Linked DNA regions of Homo sapiens: region 1 is linked to region 2. Evidence: fine-mapped expression QTL. Tissue or cell type: lung. Region 2 holds a variant in brackets; the other region holds the start of a gene. All regions are shown on one strand. Distances are between the middles of the regions.

Region 1 (4,395 bases), 62 kb before region 2:
AGTGGGGGCAGAAAAAAATACTTTATCAAAAATGACTTTGTAAATACTTTACTTTTTTTTAGAGCAGTTTTAAGTTTGCCACAAAAGTGAGAGGAATGTGCAGAGTTCCCAACTAGCCCTTCCCCCCTACACATACATAGCCCCCCCATTATAAACATTCTCCCACGGGAGCATTTATTACTATTGTTGGACCTACATTGGCACATCATTATCACCCAAAATCCATGTTTACATTAGAGTTTGCTGCTGGTATTATTCATTCTATGGATTTAGACAAATGTGTCATGACAGGTATCCACCATTATGGTATCATACACAGAGTATTTTCACTGCCCTAAAAAGCATCTGTGGATTTTCAGAGAAAAGAGCAACTTTTGCATGCTAGGTAAGTATTGCTTTCCTAGTAGGGGAACAGCAGGAAACAGCAGTCACCTTGGTGACTACTGAGGTGAAACACCATGGTGCTGTTCTGTAAATGGCTGGAAAATAAGGCTCAAGGAGCCAGATGGGGCAGGGAAAAAGAAAAAGACAGAAACACAGGCAGATTTGAATACCATGAGAATCGATTTGCATGAGAATGGATTGAGACTTCTGCAACAGCCCAGGGGAGAGATGAGGGGGCTGATTTAGAACAGTGAGAGGTTTGAGCAAAGCAAAGTTGAAAAGACCCTCCAGGTAACTGCTATGATTGACAGCAAGGAGGGCAGTGTTCCCCCAGCACAGCCCTGGCACAGGCAGCTCTAGAGGAAGCCTGGGTCTCCCACTCCCTTCCTTTTGCCACAGTCTCCCTAGCACATGCCTCCACCCTTCTCTCACTTTGGGGGACTGTGACCATTGGGTGGCAGGTGACTTCTTGAGAAATTCACTAATGTTTCCCTCTTTACTTCCTCCCTGCCTTGGTGGTTAATGGTTTGCCAAAGCAGAAGGAACATGCCTCTAGGCGCTTGCCATGATGACTTTTGCTTCCCAAAGTTAAGCTACTGAGCTGTTTATGGTTTATGTGATGGGGCCTGAGAGATTAGGAGAAGGAAGGAGAACTTCTGGGGGACACATGGAGACTGAGGAAGAGGGGGCAATCATTTTTGCAAGCTCTGAGCTGCAGCGCACACACAGTCAGCTGTGGAGCTTCACAGCCATTCCCTCTGCAGGCTCCTAGCCTCTCCAGAAACTTCCGTACCCCAGGAGTGGCAGACACAAGGCGATGGGAACAAGAGAGTATCTGCAGAATACACTGCCTGCTAAAGACAAGAGAGGACTCCCCAGATCCTTGCCTTGGTATTGCAGGAAGAGCTCAGCCTCCCAAAATCGGAGGTCAATTTATTGCCTGCCCTGTAGAATGGGAGCCGGAGGTTGAGGAGTGGATGTAAATAAAGGAATGCACTGTTTCTTGCACACACCTCTCTCCACTATCTGGGCAGAGTCTAGGTCTCATCCATCACCAAGGTTCTAGCACTCAGCTGAGAGGCTGCAGCAGGAGGGGCAGATGGAGGAGGGTGCGGTGCATACCATCTCCCCATCAAACCAATGGGCACCACGTGACCATTCTTGTGTCTCTGGGGACTGTCAATCTGCATGCTAGGAAAGGGGTGGCATTCCAATCTTTCATTTTTTTGTGTGTGAGACGGAGTCTTGCTCTGTCACCCAGGCTGGAGTGCAATGGTGCGATCTTGGCTCACTGCAACCTCCGCTCCCCGGGTTCAAGAGATTTTCCTGCCTTAGCCTCCCGAGTAGCTGGGATTACAGGCATGAGCCACCACACCCAGCTAATTTTGTATTTTTAGTAGAGACAGAGTTTCTCTATGTTGGTCAGGCTGGTCTGGAACTCCTGACCTCAGGTGATCCACCCGCCTTGGCCTCCCAAAGTGTTGGGATTACAGGCGTGAGCCACTGCGCCCGGCCCCATGCTTTCACTTTTAAAAATGCTTGTAGGGCACGCAAAAATACTAAACGGTCGATGGAGAAGGTCTGTCTGGAGTAGTTGTTTTTTTTTTTTTTTTTTGAGACAGAGTCTCGCTCTGTCGCCCAGGCTGGTGTGCAGTGGCACGATCTCGGCTCACTGCAAGCTCCGCCTCCCAGGTTCAGGCGATTCTCCTGCCTCAGCCTCCCAAGTAGCTGGGACTACAGGCGCCCGCCACCACACCCGGCTAATTTAATTTTTTGTATTTTTAGTAGAGACGGGGTTTCATCGCGTTAGCCAAGATGGTCTCGATCTCCTGACCTCGTGATCTGCCCGCCTCAGCCTCCCAAAGTGCTGGGATTACAGGCGTGAGCCACCTCGCCCGGCCTGTCTGGCGTAGTTCTAACCAGGAACAGAGCCAGCGGCCAGGGCCGCACCAGGCCTGGCCAGGGAGCGCCGCGCCTGCGCACTGCAGACTCTGAAGCCGCCGAGCCCTCCGCCGAGGTGGGTGGGGAAACTGCCCGGGCATCCGGGTCCCTCACCCCGCCCCCGCTGCATGAATGAGAGGCGCGGCGCCCGCCCCTCCCCCGGCGGGCCCGCCCCTCGCGAGGGGCCGCCGGGCGCAGTCAGCCGCCGCCACCTCCGCCGCGCTCTGTCCGGACGGACGCTCGCCGCCCGCAGCCTGCCGCCCGCCGCAGGGCGCTGACGGTCCCGCACGTCTGCCGCTGCCACCGGCGCGCCCGAGTAAGTGAGCGAGCGAGGGCGGGAGCGCCGCGGCCGCCGCCCCCGGGCTGGGGTTTGGGGGACCGAGCCGCTCCGGGTTCGGGATGCTGAGGAGACCGCGGGCCCGCGCCAGCCTCCCACACACACACACTCTCCCGGCGCCTCGGCCGGCCGGGCGCGGTGTGCAGGGGTGAGGCGGTGTCTCCAGGCTGAGGAGGGACGCGGAGGAGGGTCCGGCGCGGCCCCGGGACTGGAGGGTGAGTCCCTCACAAAGGGCGGAGCGGGGCTGTCACCTGGAGATCACGGAGGGAAGGTGCGTGGGCCCCCGCACGTCCTGCTCGCCCAAGCCCTGGCATCGGGTCCCCGGGCGTGGGAGGCGGCTGGGATGAGCTGGGAGGCTAGGAGGAGGATGGCGAGGACGCTGCCCCCGCGTTGGCGGTGGGCGCGCGCCTTGGGGGGTGCGGCGTGGCAGTGTTTTCCTGGTCCCCGTCCACTCCTCCCCTTTCTTTGTGGCGCTTGTCTCGTGCCCCGTTGTCACAGTGTGCATGGCAGTGGTCGGGGTGGAGACCTCTTCCCTCGGCTTACTCATTAATGAAAGTCACCATCTGTGGGCAGGGGGCGTGTGTGGTTCCACAGGCCGGAGAATTAAGGACCCTCCTTTGTTTCTGGAGACCTAATGATGTGTGTGTGTGTGTGTGTGTGTGTGTGTGTGTGTGTGCGCATTCAAGTGAAAGGGACATCTATGAAATGAGAGAATCAGAGATTGTCAAAAAGGGTATGAGGAAAAGGGGAGGGGATATAACTTCATCACACCTTTACCCAATTCTTTACCTGATGTTATTTCAAACAGTTTTTTCTCACTGTAAAACCAGTGGGTTTTATTCATTGGAAATGTGCATCTAAATTCTCATATATCTGTGTTTCTAGAATACTTTGCCTTTTTGGGCTTAGTTAATGGTAAGATTCTCATGTCTGTCTACATAGGAATACTCCACCGTACAGGACACTGCTTTCTGGGTTTAGTTCATTGATAATTTGTCCGAATGCTCATAAACATGTCTATAGGAATACTCCAATATATCTAGGACACAGTTTTCTCCGCTCCTGAATACAGGCAGATTTTGTTTCTTTCTGCCTCCCTGTGTTAATGAGAAGGTAGTCCAGCAGGTTCTCTCTACCTCCTTGCTTTTTTTTCCCCTTAATGCTTTGGCAGAGGGTTTTATTGCATATTACCCTGGCATGCGCCCTTGCTTTGATGTGAATTTTCCTGTGTTCTGTTGTCTGGTTGTACAGCCCAGCTCAATGGCTCCTCTTACAGGACTACTGGAAAACAGAACACCTTTTTTCATTGTCCTCATCTCCAGAGAGAGAAGGAAGCGCTGTAGGTTCCCACAAACGTTGACTCTGTCAGACTGCCTGCCTGACTTTGTTGTGTTGGTAAAGTTATGAAGAGTTGCAGTTGTTGTAGACCAATTAAAAAGAGGCTATTGGGATAACACCAGCTCTTCCTTGCTATTTTGGTTTTAAAACAAATGATATGAATTTTGCAAGATAGTTGTTAACTCTGGTTGCATGATGATTTTCAGTTTCTTTTTACCCATATACTTTTACAGGGTGTTGGGAAATTAGCCACTCATTTACAAGAAACACACCTCCAAGGTATTTTTATTATGGGTCGGGTGCGGTGGCTCACACCTGTAATCCCAGCACTTTGGGGGGCCGAGGTGGGTGGATCACCAGAGGTCAGAAGTTTGAGACCAGCCTGGCCAACATGG
Region 2 (4,395 bases):
AAAATATAAATTACTAATATCACTAATGAAAAAGGGACATTATTACAAATCCTATAAACATTAAAAGGTCACAAAGAATATTATGCATTTATGGCAATAAACTTGAAATTTTGGGTGAATTACATAGATTCCTAACAAAAAAAGAGGTGTATCAAAACTGACACAAGAAAGGGCATTTATTAAAAAAAAAAAAACACACACACAACTTAACATTGTACTTTCTGGTAATAGACGGAAAGCTTTCCCCTAAGATCAGAACACAATAAGAATGCCCACTTTACCACTACTGTTCAGCATTGTACTGGAAGTTCTAGCCAGAACAATTAGGCAAGAAAAAGAAATAGAAGGCATCTAACTAGAAAGAAGTAACTATCTCCATTTGCAGATGATATGATCCTATACAGAGAAAATCCCGTAGGATCCACACACACACAAAAAAAACTACTGGAACTAATAAATTCAGCAAACTTTCAGAGTCTAAGATCAATACACAAAAATCAGTTGTGTTTCTGTGCATCAACAATGAACAATCTGAAAAGGAAATAAAGGAAACAATCCCATTTACAATAGCATCCAAAAGAATAAAATTTTAAGGAATAAAGTTAACCAGGGAAGTGAAAGACTTATACCCTGAAAACTACAAAACATTGCTGAAAGAAATTAAAGAAGACCTAAATAAATGTAAAGGCACCCCATGTTCATGGATTTATATCGTCTTTATATAGTTACAGTGTCAATATTTTCCAAGGCAATCTACAGATTCAGTGCAATCCCTATCAAAATTCTAATGGCCTTTTTTTACAGAAATAGAAAAAGCAATCCTCAAATTCATTTGGAACTGGGGCCCCAAATAGCCAAAGCAGTTTTGAAAAAGAAAAACAAATAGAAGGACTCACACTTCCTGATTTCAAAACTTCAGAAAGCTACTGTAATCAAAAAATTGTGGTACTGGTATAAAGATAGACATATAAACCAATAAAATAGAATTGAGAGTCCAGAAATAAATCCAAACATCTATGACAAATTGATATGCAAATAAGGGTGCCAAGATCATTCAATGGGGAAAGAATTGTTTCTTCAACCAATGGTACTGGGAAGCTGGATATTAACATGCGAAACATTTGTACATCAAAGGACATCAAGAAAGTGATAAGGCAACCTACAGAATGGGAGAAAAATATTTACAAGTCCTATCTGATAAGGGTTTAATACCCAGAATATATTAAAAGCTCTTAAAATTTAACAGCAAAAAGACAACCCAATTTAAAAATGGGCAAAAGACTTAAACAATTCTCCAAAGAAGTTACACAAATGGCCAACAAGCACATGAAAAGATGTTTGACATTATTGGTCATTAAGGAATTCCAAATTAAAAACACAATGAGATACCACTTCACACCTACTAGGATGCTGTAATCAAAAACAGAAAAATAACAAGTGTTAATGAGGATGTGGAGAAATAAGAACTTGCATATATTGCTGGTAGAAATGCAAAATGATGCAGCTGCTGTGAAAAAGAGTTTGGTGGATCTTCAAACAAATTCTTTTTTTTTTTTCTTGAGATGGAGTCTCGCACTGTCACCCGGGCTAGAGTGCAATGGCGCGATCTCGGCTCACTGCAATCTCTGCCTCCCAGGTTCATGCAATTCTCCTGCCTCAGCCTCCCAAGTAGTTGGGATTACAGGCGCCTGCCACCACACCCAGCTAATTTTTTGTATTTTTAGTAGAGACGGAGTTTCACTATGTTGGCCAGACTTGAACTCCTGACCTCATGATCCACCTGCCTCAGCCTCCCAAAGTGCTGGGATTACAGGCATGAGCCACCATACCTGGCCAGTTCTTCAAAATATTAAACCATGTGACCCAGATTTTCATTCCTAGGTATATACCCAAGACAAATGAAAATATATGTCCACACAGAAACGTGTACAGAAATGTTTCATAATAGCCAAAAGGTATAAACAACCCAAATGTCCATCGACAGATGAATGGATAATTGTATGTACATACAATGGAATATTATTCAGCCATAAAAAGAAGTGAAGTACTGATACATACTACAACCAGGATGAACCTCAAAAACATGCTAGGTGGAAAGCCATACACAAAAGGCCATATATTGCATTGTTCCTTTTATATGATATATCCATAATAGGCAAATCTATAGAGACAAAAAGCAGATAAGAGGTTGCAGGGGATAGAAGTAAGGGGTAATGGGGAGTGATCAGTGAATGGGGTACCAGGTGTTTTGTTGGAGTGATGAAAAATTTTGAAACTAGAGATAGCTGGTAGATGGACAACATTGTGAGTACACTACTTACCACTGAATTGTATACTT[G/T]AAGGCGGTTAGTTGTAATGTGAGTAAAAATAAAAGAATGAAATTTTTAAAAAGAAAAAACCGGGGCCGGGCATGGTGGCTCACTCCTGTAATCCCAGCACTTTGGGAGTCTGAGGCAGGGGATCACCTGAGGTCAGGAGTTCGAGACCAGCCTGGCCAACATGGTGAAACCCCATCTCTACTAAAAATATAAAAATTAGCTGGACGTGGTGGCACACACCTGTATTCTCAGCTATTCAGGAGGCTGAAACAAGAGAATCACCTGAACCCGGGAGGTGGAGGTTGCAGTGAGCCAAGATTGTGCCACTGTACTCCAGCCTGGGCGACAGAGTGAGACTCTGTCTCAAAAAAAAAAAAAAACTACTACAAGAAATTGAAAATATGAATAATTATATATCTAATACGAAAAAGAGACAGATCACGAGGTCAGGAGATCGAGACCATCTTGGCCAACATGGTGAAACCCCATCTTTACTAAAATACAGAAATTAGCCGGGCGTGGTGGCATGTGTCTGTAATCCCAGCTACATGGGAGGCTGAGGCAGGGGACTTGCTTGAACCTGGGAGGCGGAGGTGGCAGTGAGCTGAGATTGCGCCACTGCATTCCAGCCTGGGCAACAGAGCAAGACTCCGTCTCAAAAAAAAAAAAAAAGAGAGAATGTGTTTTGGGCCAGGCACGGTGGCTCATGCTGTAATCCCAGCACTTTGGGAGGCTGAGGCAGGCAGATCACAAGGTCAGGAGATGGAGACCATCCTGGCTAATATGGTGAAACCTCGTCTCTACTAAAACTACAAAAAAAATTAGCCGGGCGTGGTGGCGGGTGTCTGTAGTCCCAGCTACTCGGGAGGCTGAGGCAGGAGAATGGCGTGAACCCAGGAGGCGGAGCTTGCAGTGAGCCGAGATCACGCACTGCACTCCACGCTGGGTGACAGAGTGAGACTCCGTCTCCAAAAGAAAAGAAAGGAAAATTGAATGTATTTTTAAAACATTCCCACAATGATATTTTAAGCCAAGTAACTCATCCAAACATTTAAGGAAAAAAATACCACTCCAATATGACACTTCCAGAGAATAAAAGTGGAACAAATACTTCTCAGCTCATTTCATGAGGCCAGCATAATTGTGATTTCAAAGCCTGACAAGGATATTATGAGAAAGGAAATTATAGACCGATCCTTTTCATCAGCAAAATATTGTAAATCAAATTCAGGGATCTACAAAAAAGGTAGAATATTACAACCAAATGAGGTTTGTTCCAAGAACGAGAGTTATTTTAACATTTGAAAAGCAATCAATACAATATAGCACATTAATAGTATAATATCATAAAGCATTGATAAAATTTAATACCTATTCATGATTTTTTTTGGTAAACTAGTACTACAAGAGAACTTTCTAAAATTTGAAAGAGTATCTACAAAAAATATCTAAAGAAAACATCATACTTAATAGTGATGTATTGATAGGGACATTCACTATCACTTTTATTTAGCATCATACTGGAGGGCCTAGCTAGTCAGTGCAAAAAAAAAAAAACGGGAAAAAAGAATAAAAGAAAAGTGTATTTAGAAAAGAAGCAAATAAAGATTATAAAGGCAGTGTTTAAATTGTGATTATATGCAGACAACATAATTGTGTACATTAAAAAATCCAAAAGTTTTTACAGAGAAACTATTTAGAATTAGCAAGCCACCAGATACAGGATCAATATACAAAAATTACTTTTTTCCATATAGGTAGCAAGAAATAATTAGAAAATAAAGATTTTTTTCAACACTATTTACAGTAGCATCAAAAATTACCAAATGTCTAGGAGAAATGTGTAAGAGAAAAATTAAAGCTGTAAATAAAGAAATAATGTTCATAGGTTAGACACTCAGTCTTGCAAAGATGTCAGTTCTTCCTCAGTTGGTCTGTGAATTTTGTACATTCTTACTCAAAACCCCAAGAGGGTTTTTTTTTTTTTCTGGTGGAAATTGAAATCTATATGGAACTGCAGAGAACCAAGAATAACCAAGCCAGTCATTCAAAAGAATAAAACTTGAGGACTTTTGCT

The links.
Region 1: it holds the start of RNF24, and the variant in region 2 is fine-mapped to the expression of RNF24 in lung (TOPMed, PIP above 0.99). The same link has a PIP of 0.9 or more in blood mononuclear cells.

What each region holds. Positions count from the first base shown.
Region 1 is chr20:4,013,683-4,018,077 of GRCh38, reverse strand. RNF24 (ring finger protein 24) reads left to right here and starts at 2,520. Exons shown (of 6, transcript NM_001134337.3): 1 at 2,520-2,641. RefSeq lists enhancers at 793-1,394, 1,598-2,530 and a silencer at 2,414-3,013.
Region 2 is chr20:3,952,063-3,956,457 of GRCh38, reverse strand. All of the region lies in intron 2 of RNF24 (ring finger protein 24), which reads left to right. Among named protein-coding and RNA genes, the nearest start is that of MIR103B2, 37 kb to the right of the region's middle. The variant G/T (reference allele first, on the strand shown) is at 2,339.